3 separate regions of the Homo sapiens genome follow, and all the other regions are linked to region 2. The links come from fine-mapping of genetic effects on gene expression. A gene starts in region 2. Each other region holds a variant in brackets. All regions are shown on one strand. Distances are between the middles of the regions.

Region 1 (4,241 bases), 24 kb after region 2:
TCCTGCCAGTACTGAGTACGTGTTTGCCCTTTGTTCACCAACCTGTATGGTTTCTCACTTTTTGATCTTCATCATTCCAATTATTAACAATGGTAGCCTATTTCCATTTTAATGTACAATTCTTTAATCACAAACAAGATAGAACAGTTTTCACATATTTATTAGCCATTTTTTAAGTGTTTTTGTTCTTTGCTTTCTATTAGGTTATTATTATTTTTCTTAATTTTAAAAATTCTTTGTATACCATGAAAATTATATACTAAGAAATACTTTTTTATGCTAAGGTATATTTTAATACTTACATACTGAGATACTAAGGACTATTTAGTTGCAAGTGTTTTTTTCAGTCCATCAATGAGAGATTATTCAATTACAAGAGATAGAACTCAACTCATTTAAACAACAAATGAGCCTAGTGTGGTGGCTCACTCCTGTAATCTCAGCACTTTGGGAGGCAAGGCAAGAAGATCACTTGAGTCCAGCAGTTCAAGACCAGCCTGGGCAACATAGTGAGACCTCTGCATCCACAAAAAAATGTTTTTTTTGTTTGTGCTTTGTTTTTGTTTTTTGAGACGGAGTTTCACTCTTGTTGCCCAGGCTGGAGTGCAATGGCATGATCTTGGCTCAGGCTCACTGCAACCTCTGCCTCCCAGGTTCAAGCGATTCTCCTGGCTCAGCCTCCCCAGTAGTTGGGATTACAGGCACCTGCCACCATGGCCGGCTAATTTTGTATTTTCAGTAGAGACAGGGTTTCACCATATTGGTCAGGCTGGTCTCGAACTCCTCACCTCAGAAGATCCACCTGCCTTGGCCTCCCAAAGTGCTGGGATTACAGGCATGAGCCACTGCACCAGGCCTAAAAATGGTTTTAAATTAGTCAGGCATGGTGGCATGTGCCTGTAGTCCCAGCTACTTGGTAGGCTGAGGTGGGAGGATTGTTTGAGCCCAGGAAGCTGAGGCTGCAGTGAGCTGTATTCCTGCCACTGCCAGGCGGGCAACAGAGCAAGACCTTGTGTCAAAAATAAATAAATAATAAAGGACATTTATTGGCTCACAAAATTAAAAAGTGATTACAATGTTAGGTGAGACCTGATCTAGCAACTGAAAGATCTCATTTCTTTATTTCCCTGTCTTCTGCTTTCCACATGGTTGGCTTCATCCATCAGCTCCAGCAACTGCAAGACCTCACTCTCACTCTATGCTTTCCAGAGAGGGAGAGAGAGAGATTCTCTCTTCTGGGGGCTCCTGCCAAAGTCCTGGGATTTTTTCTTTCTTTATCTCTGTCTCTGCCTCTCTGTCTCTGTTTCTCTCTCTCTCTCTCTCTCTCTCACACACACACACACACACACACACACACACACACACACACTGACATGATCATATGCCCATCCCTGATCTAATCAGTTTGCTCAAGGGGGGACATGCTAATTCGTTTAAGTCAATTAGAATCCGCCCCCTACCCAAAGTATATAAATGAGAATAGGGAATTAAAAATTCCCCCAAGAAAGATGAGCTTCTGTGAATAACTTCAGGATCAGGGGGTTATGAACATCCGTTTTATAAGAGGAGACCAGTACAGCCTCAGAGTCCCTTATGAGTTTACCAAGTCATAGATTTCCTTAAGGCCTGCCTGAGCTTTTGGACTCAATTCCAGCAAATGGAATTCTGTGGCTTGAAAAGGCAAGTCCTCGTAACTGCACACAATAGAGAAAAGAGCTACTGATGCCAGCAGGAAAGATGAAATGCTAGCCCTAATTTTTAAAATTTTCATTAAATTTGGAGGCTAAAATATTTACAAAAATGCGATCCTGTTTTATATTTAGTAACCATAACAGTTTCCTTGTGAGGTTGTCTGTAAAAAGTCCTTTTCCAAGATTATCTGGCTTTCAAAGTTTGATATAATTTCTGCAAAATAAGATTCTAATCTCTAAAAACCTTGAATGCCGACTGGTAGTCATGGATAACTCTATTCAAACTGAGATTCGTAATTTTAGAAGTATAAACTACCATTCTGTTCTTTGTTAAGCACAATCGTCTTAGAACACCCTCCTTCTCTCTT[T/C]TCCTTTTGTGCATAAAGGTAAGTAAATAGATGGCTGGCTGATTCATCTTGAAACAACGTGTTCCAGGAAGTTTATTCCAACAGCCAATTTATCTTTCAGCTTTATGTTAATGTTTTCAGAGCAGGCTGTGTGTGTGTGTGTGTGTGTGTGTGTGTGTGTGTGTGTGTGTGTGTGTGTTTAAATTTACCAGTACTCCAGTGCTCCCAAAACAACGTCTCAAATTGGCTAAGCAGTGTGGGTTTCCTTTGGGAAATCACATGGTACTGAGCAGGAAAATGGTGGACATTCGTGGGCCTTTTTGACTCTCCACCTCCTTTTAAGAAAGCCAAAGAGTCCAGTCTTTCCACCCAAGCCTTCCTCTTCCCACCTCCCTTGAAGCTAGAGTACAAGGATGTGATCTGGGCTTAACCAGTCAGACACGCTAGCCCCAGAGTTTTGAATTGGTGGCTGCTGATCCAAAGCAGTATGAGAAATGAAGTCAGAGTGGCTACAGCAATAACTGGTTTCCGGGAGCAGCAGATGCTGCACAAAATGTGACGGCCATGTCCTCACTGGCAAGATTTTGGCTGTGGACCTGCAGCTGCCTGACCCTTTCTCCTGCCTGCTTCTCAAGATTTCCCCATGTTTCTGTGAACCAGGTGCTTTTCAGTCAGTTCCTTTTTGGTTTAACCAGAGTTGGTTTCTGATGCTAAGAATGTTGACAGTTACAAGAAATAAGGAGAATATCCCTACCCTAGACTCTGGGTCCCATTTTGCCACCTGAGCACCAGGAGTCCTTTGTGAAGACAGTCCCTCTGGTTCTGGTCATGTTTGCTGTGATGTCCCCTCCCCTCTTCTCCTCCTTCCCTCTTTCCTTTCTTCCCTCTTCCTCTCCTCCTTCTCTCCTCTCTGAGGGACCAGCATCAGAGACATTCACCACACACTCCCACCATCCCTCACTGGCTCAACATCCTCCACAAACCTTCCCTGAGAAGAGCCTACACCCCATACAACACAGCCTCCATCAGCAGAGCCCTGGGGCCACCCATTCCACTGGTTCATCCATCATGCCCAGACTGACCGCCAGGCAAGGACACAAGTTGTGCCTAGTTTGCAACCCTCCAAATACTGAGAAATGAGTTACTTTGGGAAATGCTTTGTCCTTTTTCTGAAAAGATCCTTCCAGGTTATCTTTGGCAGGGCTAAATTATTCCAGCTGAGCCTGACACCTGCTTCCTGAAGGCTCAGACCCTGCCGCTTTCCTCCCTCCCTCTCTCCCTCCCTCAACACTCCCTCCCTTCCTTTTCATAAGTATTCACTGAGCACCTCCTAGGAATGAGACAAGATGACGAGTCTCAACTCAACCCTCTGTCACTGAAGTCTCACTCCAGTAAGGCGCATTTACTCCAGTATGTCCTGTAACCCACAATGAGTCACTGCATTCAGTGCAGTCTAGGCTATTCCTTCTATTGTAGGTAACAGGAGTCTCTTCTCTTTCCACTGCAAAGGATGTGCCTTCAGATCATCTGAATCATAAAAAAGGTGACATTTCTACTTTTTTCAAAAATAAATAAAAGAGCCCTCCTAAGCAGGAACCCCTCAGTTATGTCACAAGAGCCTTCCAGTAACAACTTCTCTCTGTCATAGCCAATGGCTTAAAGGCACCCAAAGTCCCAGTAAGGTTTTCCCAGACTCTAGTTCCTGGGAAGCTTTACTTGGAAGACAGTTGCAGATAAACGCCAAGCAACCAAGCTGATGGGGAAGAAACCCACTGCCTGGGTCACGCTCAGTCCTTCAGGGTTTCCAGGGACCAAAGATTATGCACAAGAACAGCCCAGTCATATCTACTACCAGTCACTTCCAATAACCAACTTTGCATAAATGTCAATATGTGTCTGCTGACATATATACAACATGCACCCATATGCACATCTTTATAATAGTTTCATTATAATGACATACTTTCAAAAAGTTATTGGCATACATAAACATATGCCCATCTCCAATTAAAATAAACATATACTTAAGCTGTTTTTAGTTTCTGCTTCATAAGTTATAAATAGGCTAAACCATTTACAAAATAATAAAATCCAGCACTAATCTTTCTGTCTGCCGAAGACCATTTTCTGTGATCCTTACCTGAGCACATTTTTCAAGGCCACAGGACTGGGGGGTCAGATTTTCTGCATCTCCAGGTGCCTG
Region 2 (4,241 bases):
GTACAGTGTATCTTGGGTGATTTTTTCACCAAGTATAGGATATGTCTGAATAGCTACAGGCTTATAACCAGCCATAATTCCATATAATTGCACTATTGTCCAAGAGTCACTATTTTGGAATTGGTATTAGAAATAATTACAGTGACTCTGCCTTAATTCTGAAAAATAAAATATTTTATATACATATTATAAGCTTGTACACATAGTTGATTTTCACTCTGCTTTCTTTAAAAAGTCTGTGTGGAAGTATATAGATTAGAGACCAATAAGCCATTTAATTCTAACCCAGAAAAGGCAATCTATAGGAAGCAGGAATAATTAAAGTGAAGGCTATCATATCGCACCATCTATTCAGCTGTACACAAAGGTTCTCACACCTAGCCAACCATTTTACAACACTTAGGAATAAATCTAGCACAGCCTTACAGTAGCCAAACCAAAAAGGATCATGCTGGCTTTGAGTGTCCATTTTTTGGCAACAGGAAATATTAAGGTGAAACTGCAAATACAAGTTTCCTGAAACCAAGTTTAAGATGACATTTAATCTATAACAATTATAGTTACGGATTTGATTTCCTGAAAGCCTAAAAATGCCAAGAAGTAAGAAACACAAAGCTAATATTCTAATGTAGAAGCTTAAAATTAAATTTACTTTAAAAGGTTTAAACAGTAGGAAAGAAAACTGTAATAAAGCAGTCCTGAAATTAAATTCAACACTAAAGTGGCAGAATAGGATAAAACTTTTAAATAACATGCAATCAAGCCAAAACATTTTTCCAGAACGACTCAATTGCAAAAGAGATTCAATGTTATCAGGTAAATGATTCCAGAGGTGCTGCTCATCATCTATTCCAAAAAGCCTGAAAACTTTACATTAGTAACACCACGATAAATAGGTGTAACATATATTTAAAAGGTGCTTTAATGAAATACAATGACCAATGATTGTATTTCACTGGTCTTTGGGAACACTCTTCTGTTCATTAAAGTACCTACCAATGTGCAGGACACTGCTCTAGGCACTGGGGCTATAATGGTGAATGAAATAAAGACATGGTCTGTGCCTTTGCTTACTCCAATATACTCCATTTTGGCTGGTGACTGGCACCAGATATTAACCTAGACTCAGCCTTGACGTGTCCTTTTCTTCCTCACTCCTAACATCCAAATAGTTAACAAGATCTGCTGATTTTATCTCCCAAATATTTTAAAACTCCATTAGGTTCACTTCACCTGAGGGAGCCTCGTAAGCAAAGGCAAAGATGGAAATGTGTCCATTGCCTTGGAGAGTTGCTGATTACTCCGGGAACTAACAACGGTGGACAGGAAAGGGTGTAATCGCAGAGAAGAACCTAGGTCGAAGCTTAATTGAGGGGAACTTGAGCCGGTTAAAGAATTTGGCCACTCTCCTATATAGCCTGGGAAGCCCCAGAAGAGCATGCCAGATTAACACAGGAAGGCCGGGTGTGAGTGTGGGCTTCCCTCAATGGGAGCCGCCTTCACCTACCTCCACTGAGCCCCAAAGGGTCCGACGAGACACCTCGACCCAAGGACAATTAATCGGACTGTGCCAGCTCCCTACCCTGCACAGTTCAGCAGCACTGGCGTAAAAATCACATGGACCCTCAAGGAGCCGGCGACACACACAGCGAACCGAACGTCGCGCGAAGATGACGTACCAGAGCACGCTCATGAGACTCACGCAGCCCGGCGGCGCAGAGGCGGGTCAGGTGGGCGGGGCGATCTGGAGTAGGAGGTGTGACCGGAGGGCGAAATTGGGGCTTCCTCTGCTCTGGTGACCCAGAACCGTCAACTGAAATGACCCTGTCTGTGTAGTACTCCGGCAGGATGGGCCTCGGAGCGTAAAGGCGGCAAAAACAAAAATATTAAAAAAAAGGAGAGAGGGACAAAAAAAAGAAAACCCGAAAGTTTCAGCTGCATTGCTGCGGAACGTTTTTTAGCCAGAAGGCGAAAGAAGAAATCGGAAGTGACGTCGCGGCCAAAACAAGCCCGGGCTTGGAGGCCTGTACTGAAGCTGGCCTCAGATGGGAAGGCCCGACTCGCTGTCTGCTGTCGTCGGTGGTCGCGAGACCTTGCACTCTCACCGGGTCGGCCTCCAGCCCCTGTGCCCGGGATCCGCTCGCCGCGGATGAGCGAGAGTTTCTTCCTGGGACTTTTCGGGCACAGCTGGCCGGTGGCGACAGAACGGACTTTCTTTCCTGCAAGAGTCTCCCCTCCAGCGGGAGACAGCGGGCTCCTGTCTCGGGACGCTGGGACACCTGTCGCCTGTGAGGCATCATTTATTTTCATAGCACCTTCCTCTCCTTGTAGAATAATTCCAGGATCAGGAAGAAACGAGGGGCTCCTGTTATTAGCATCCACAGGAACTAGCATAGCTGCCCACTTTATCTCCGTAGACTCTCTATCCCTTCATCCCTGGGCTCTGACAGATCGAGGTGAACCTAGCTATCGATTGCCTTACCCCCTTTTTCTCACCACCACCTCTTCTAAGTCCTGTTACCCCACTCCCCTCACCCCCGCCTCCCTCTCCTGTTCTTCAAAATTTTGGCCTACCAATCAACTTTGCTTCTCCTCTCGTTAAACTGCTGTGCCAAGATAAGCGTTCATTTTCCACCCACCCCCTTCGCCTAAGCACATTTGCTATTCTCCTCTCGAAGACCTGTAATTCCATCTATAAACCCTGATTTGTAACATGGAAGCTGTTTAGAGCTGGAAAGAATATTAGAAAGGCCTATTTCAACACCTTTTTATAATAGATGAATTTCAGAAAACTTGTATTATTTATTTGTCCAGGAGTGGCCAGCTAGTTAGTAGCGATGTTGGGAGTGGAAAGCCAGGTCTAATCAGCAAATGTTAGAAATAGAAAAGAATATGGAAAAAATTGTTAAAGTTAAGATCAGAAAACATTTATGGAGCACCTGGTAGGACCAAGTACTGTTCTGTGTGCAAAAATTAGTAAGAGTGGTCCCCATCCTAGGGGAGTTTTCAATTTAGCTGTTATTTAAATGGAAATTGTCAAAAGGATGGTGAATGCTAAAATACAGATACATGCAGGGTGCTCAGAGAGCTTAGGGGAGTTGCACTTAGCCAACCGCTGGATAGGAGAAAGGGGGAGATGGTTCTTCCCTCAGGAAACACAGTTCACATTGTCCAGTCCCTTTTAAGACGCATGGACTAATGCATTGCACATCCATCTCCCTTTGAATCACTGAACTAATTTTCTTTTCTGGTTTCCTTCTTTTTGCCCAAATGTATTAACCTTCTTACTTCCTGCTTTTTTTTTTTTTCCTTACTATACTATGTGTTATTTATTCAACTCTCTCGTGGAGATTTTGGCTTTGTTTAGGGCTGCCTCATTTTAATGGTCAGAGTGATGGAGTCAGAAGAGCTGAGTAAGCCCTCATAATTCATGAGCTTCCTTTTTTACCCCTCCTAGGTGGACATATGATTACCTGACCTGCCTACTCAAAGGATTGTTATAAAGACTAATCTTTGAAAATGTTTTTAAAATTGTAGAAGGTGGTTATCTGTAAATGTATGGTTTCGCGACCCTTGCTCCACTGCGATCCTAATGCATTTTTCTTTTAATTCCAATTCCAATTTTGAAACACCCTGCACCCTCTCAAAATTCCTAAGAGGCAATTAACCCTAACATGAAAAAATTAACTGGATGTTATTAATTTCCTTTCTGTCCCAAATGATAATGTATCTAAGACAACTATACATCTTGGAAAGCCAATCCATAATCTACCTACTTTATTTTTCATGAAAACCTACATTAAGTTGCTAATGCTTAATCGGAACAAAAATTCATAAATGTACCTTCAGTTCATCAAAACCAAAGCTTTGTAAAGCCTTTCATGGTCTAGGAATCACAGGTGTTATAGATGACAATGCCAATAAACTTGGATACAACATGAATTATCATTTCTTAAATTCAAACTAAGGGCCACCTATATAAACATAGCATATTAAAGAACTAACCTTAGGTAAGAGATTAAAGTTTATTTTCATTGTTAGCCTGATCTTTTATCCATTTGGTGATATTCAGATATAGGAAATGGGAGAAACAGTAACTAAAATGTATTGGAATTTAATGATGGAGGTGAGAATATCACTGTACAGTATTTCATTTGGTCTTTACCAGAACCCTATAAGGTTAATGGTGATATCCCTATTTTATAAATGACACGGAAGCTCAGAGGGATTGAGTAACTTCT
Region 3 (4,241 bases), 50 kb before region 2:
CCACACAGTAGAAAGGAGGAAACAGCAAGGGAAAAGAGGCATACCTCCCGGTCCAGTCAGCCTCCTTTACAGGATTTCCCTGGAAGCCTCACCCAACTCCTACTTACATCTCATTGGCTACCCCTATCCATTACAGGGGGCTGGAAACATGTAGCTGTTTAAGCTGAGTGCATTGCTGCTCCTATTAATACAGGATTTCTAGGAGTAAAGAAAAAGGGCTGTTCACTATGTCTGCCTAATAATTATGTTAGACTATGAAGGTTTTGAAAACAAGGCAGACAAAAGATTTTAAGTTTAAAAGAGGAGGATAGGTAGTTAGCAAATGACTTATTATCTATGAAGAAATAGGTAGAAAAGGGCCGGGCATGGTGGCTCACGCCTGTAATCCCAGCACTTTAGGAGGCCGAGGCGGGCAGATCACTTGAGGTCAGGAGTTCAAGACCAGCCTGGACAACACGGTGAAACCCCGTCTCTACTAAAACTACAGAAAAAAAAAAAATTAGTTGGGCATGGTGGCGAGCACCTGTAATCCCAGCTACTTGGGAGGCTGAGACAGGAGAATTGCTTGAACCTGGGAGCCTGGGAGGCAAAGGTTGCAGTGAGCCGAGATTGCACCACTGCACTCCAGCCTGGGCAACAGAGCGAGACTCCACCTCAAAAAAAAAAAAGTAGAAAAATGAATAAACTTAGAGTTTAAAAAGCATAGAAGAAACAAGCTTGAAAAACAAACAAGAAAAACTCTAATAGCTACTTTCTTCTAAAAGTAGCTGATTGATTGGCCCTGCTCCATTCACTCATTTTCAACCTTCTACGACCTTTTTCAATTTTCTGGAGAGATGTATTAACTCTCAACTATACACCACTTTTGAACCAATACAGGGTAGATTCCTAGTCTGTGTATGGTGCCAGAATCAGCCTTTCTCCCCTCTCAGTCATATGCCCATATTACTTTGGGGATACTATTATAATAACAGTTATCACATCATGCTTTAGTTACTTATCATTTGCTGGTTAAAAGGCAAGGTAATTGAGTAGAAAAGGCAGCAAGTACTTTGCCATCAGACAGACCTAACTTTCTACTTGCTAGCTTGACTATGTTCCTTTGGCAAGTTCCCTTAACTCTCTACAACATACCTTCCTCACCCTTAAAATGAAGAACATCGTATGACTCTTAGAGGCATTTCCGAGGTTGTGGTGAAGACTGGAGCCTACTACTCAGCAGAAACTTAGGAAATGGCCTTTTGTTATTATTACATCTTCCCTGCTGGATTGCAAGGTCATTAAGGGCAGGTTTGTTTGTTTGTTTGTTTTTTACAATGTGAATGTGTTCCTTCTATAATTCTTAAAAATTAAAGGCAACTTAAAAATTATTTACAACGTTATGGAATAGAAAAAAAAGTCTCACGTATCTTTACCTGAACCCCCAGTGTCTTAACACACTACTGAATGCCCTGGCAAGGGTCATTTCAGCAAAGAGAAGGTCACCTGGCAGGCCTCAGGAGAGCTCTAAGAAACAGCAGCATGCAGGCCAGCCCATGCTGGTGGAATGAATGTCACTGGCCTATCGTATTACCCCAGAGCCAGGTGGGAAATTATAGGAACTACACCACCCCCAAGGATGGCAAGTGACATTGTAGAATTCTCCTTGTGGGGCGTTTTAAATTCTGAGATTCAAAACACCTAACAATTGTTGCTTTTTTTTTTTC[CA/A]TGTTTCATAGTTTAATAAATAGGTTTTATATTAATGAAGATACCTTTAGTTATGCTGTGGCAAGAGTGCTTGTTTTAGAGCGTTTCCTGCCAAACACCCACATGGGACATTCCCTCCCAGTACCAGATGTGGAGATGCGTTCAGGCCTGGCCAGTCCCATCTCACGTCCCTTCCTCCTGGGAGCCCATTTGCAGCTAACCATGTTACTCAGTGTCTTCCATGGGTGGTTGTGATGCAAGATGCACAAAGCCTGCTGCAAATTCTTCCTCAGACCATCTCTTGCTTTTCCGAAGTCAAATTTCTAAGCCCAGGTCATTCCACCCTACTATCCCCTTTGGTGGCAAACTCTTCTGTTGCTCCTATCATTTTCCCTTTTGTCTCTCCCTATCTCTTGACATTTGCACATTGAAGCATTAAATTGCAGGGTGGAAAGGAAGACAATTTCTTCTGTGTATTTAAAAAAACTACAGAGCAGCATATTGTTCTCAGCACACATCTATGTTAAATGAATTCCCCTGTCCAGTTGATATCCCAAGGCTAGGCAGCACCAGTGACATTGTCAGGCCAGAGACCTGGGAAGACATATCACCAGAAGCCTTTTCCCATTACTCATGCCTGGGCCCCACCCCTGGAGATATTGATTCAGCCGATCCAGGGTGAATCCCAGACAATGCTCCCCAGGTAATTCTGTTAGACTCCTCCCTGACTCTGCCCTTGGGAAATAACAGCATAACTTGAATTGCCTTCTGAAGAGCTACTCTTGGCAATGGCTTCTAGGGAGCCACTTTCTCATTGGCCACTGGTCTTAGTCACCCAGTCCTGCGAGGAATTGTACTATGCATCACAATCTCAGAATCACAATAATGGCAACCAGTACTTATGCTTAACATATTCCAGGCACACTTCTAAGCTCTAACATAATTCCTTTAATCCTCATAACAACACTGTTAGATACTAGAGGTGTCTCCTTTTTGTCAAGGAAGAAACTAACAGGTGCTAAAGCCTAGATTCAAACCCAGCCCATATTCTTTTTATTTATTTATTTATTTGAGACATGTTCTGGCTCTATCACCCAGGCTGGAGAGTGGTGGCCCCCCATCTCGGCTCACTGCAACCACCACGTCCCAGGCTCACGTGATCCTCCCACCTCAGCCTACTGAGTAGCTGGGACTACAGGCACGTACCACCACACCCGGCTAATTTTTGTACCTTTTGTAGAGATAGGGTTTTACCACGTTGCCCAGGCTGGTCTCAAACTCCTGACCTCAATTGATCCTCCTACCTCGGCCTCCCAAAGTGCTGGGATTATAGGCATGAGCCACCGCACCCAGGCGAGCCCATATTCTTAACCAATATCCTCTATGGCCTCATGCAGTGAGTGTCAGAAGATCTCAGGAGTCATATTTTTTGTGGCCAAACCAACCCAAATCACTGTGCAAACCACTGCTACCCTGATCCACCTGGTTTCACCACCAACCCCAGCTCTCCCATCTCTTTGGTCTGCTCAGCCGCATAAATTCTGAAAACAGTATTGCAGTTCCCACTGTTTTTCTACAGATCTCCTAAGCCTTAGCTCAGGCTCTCCTCCCAGAAAACTTTCACCAACACCCCCACCCATGCCAAGCTGGGTTAGGCATCTTTATTTATACTTACCTCCTACTTTGTGCATATCTTGATCACAAACTTACCATGTGGCATTCTGATAGTCTGTTTCTGCCTCCATCTCCCTCAGCAGAGGGTTGAGTAAGGTCAAAAGCACGTTTCAGTCATCTTTGATTCCCTGATGCCTGGTGAAAGATCTTGTGGAAGAAACATAGAAACTGTTGAATAAACAATGTTGGCTTCAGTGATACTTCTATCCCTCAATTTACAGGAAGTGCTTAGTAATTTATCCCTGGGGTCTGGGGCAAGATGGGACATCTATCTTCCAAAGGCCCTATTAAGACTTTATCTCCAGAAAATACAGACTCATATTATTTTATCTTTTCCTATTTTCCCTTTCAACCTTCTGCCTCAATATAATTATGTTAATTTTTTCTATAGCTGAGGAGCCAGGAACATAATAGTCTTGCTTAATATGGAAAGGATAAGCTCCCATTCAAACTTCAACTTTTCTAACAGGAAAGTCCTCTTTATTACCTTTACATTCTCTTTTTTCTGCCCTACCTGGACTTATTGGTGGGAAACCTATTATAACAGGTGAAGTGGGGTTCCTGGGGGCTCTGGATGGAGACAGACATGTGACAGATGAAAACCCTTCACAGCTGTCATCAACATAAAGGTTGTAGATATAAACTTCCTTGTCTTTATCTTCTAAAATTTAAGGTCTTCAGAATTAGTTGTGTCTTGTGAAGTGCAAGGAGATACAGATAAAGGAGGTGAGTAGAAGCTGCCAATGGAATCACAACAAGCAGTCAAGGGGATAAATCAGCCAAGAGAGAAAAAAGCACACAATGACATTTACCCTTGACAGTTTTTCTGTAAGACTTTGCATTTGGCTTTATAAATAACAAATATTCTCTTATAGTTTCTA

Alleles and levels. Positions count from the first base shown, and alleles are read on the strand shown. Sizes are in standard deviations (SD) of each study's normalised expression.
For the expression in stomach of the gene that starts at base 1,781 in region 2, C is the low allele of the variant in region 1 and T is the other (small effect, 0.19 SD a copy in GTEx).
For the expression in monocytes after LPS of the gene that starts at base 1,781 in region 2, A is the low allele of the variant in region 3 and CA is the other (moderate effect, 0.66 SD a copy in Quach 2016).

The links. PIP is the estimated chance that this variant, and not a neighbour inherited with it, causes the effect.
Region 1: its variant is fine-mapped to the expression of ANKRA2 in stomach (GTEx, PIP above 0.99).
Region 3: its variant is fine-mapped to the expression of ANKRA2 in monocytes after LPS (Quach 2016, PIP 0.95).

Annotation. Positions count from the first base shown.
Region 1 is chr5:73,539,576-73,543,816 of GRCh38, reverse strand. No RefSeq gene overlaps it. Among named protein-coding and RNA genes, the nearest start is that of ANKRA2, 24 kb to the left of the region's middle. The variant T/C (reference allele first, on the strand shown) is at 2,060.
Region 2 is chr5:73,563,179-73,567,419 of GRCh38, reverse strand. It overlaps ANKRA2 (ankyrin repeat family A member 2), which reads left to right and starts at 1,781. Exons shown (of 9, transcript NM_023039.5): 1 at 1,781-2,288. UTP15 (UTP15 small subunit processome component) reads right to left here and starts at 1,677. Exons shown (of 13, transcript NM_032175.4): 1 at 1,508-1,677; 2 at 1-158. The coding sequence starts at 75. RefSeq lists enhancers at 1,412-1,966, 1,538-2,097, 2,108-2,317, 2,338-2,387, 1,967-2,521.
Region 3 is chr5:73,613,443-73,617,683 of GRCh38, reverse strand. No RefSeq gene overlaps it. Among named protein-coding and RNA genes, the nearest start is that of ARHGEF28, 11 kb to the left of the region's middle. The variant CA/A (reference allele first, on the strand shown) is at 1,707.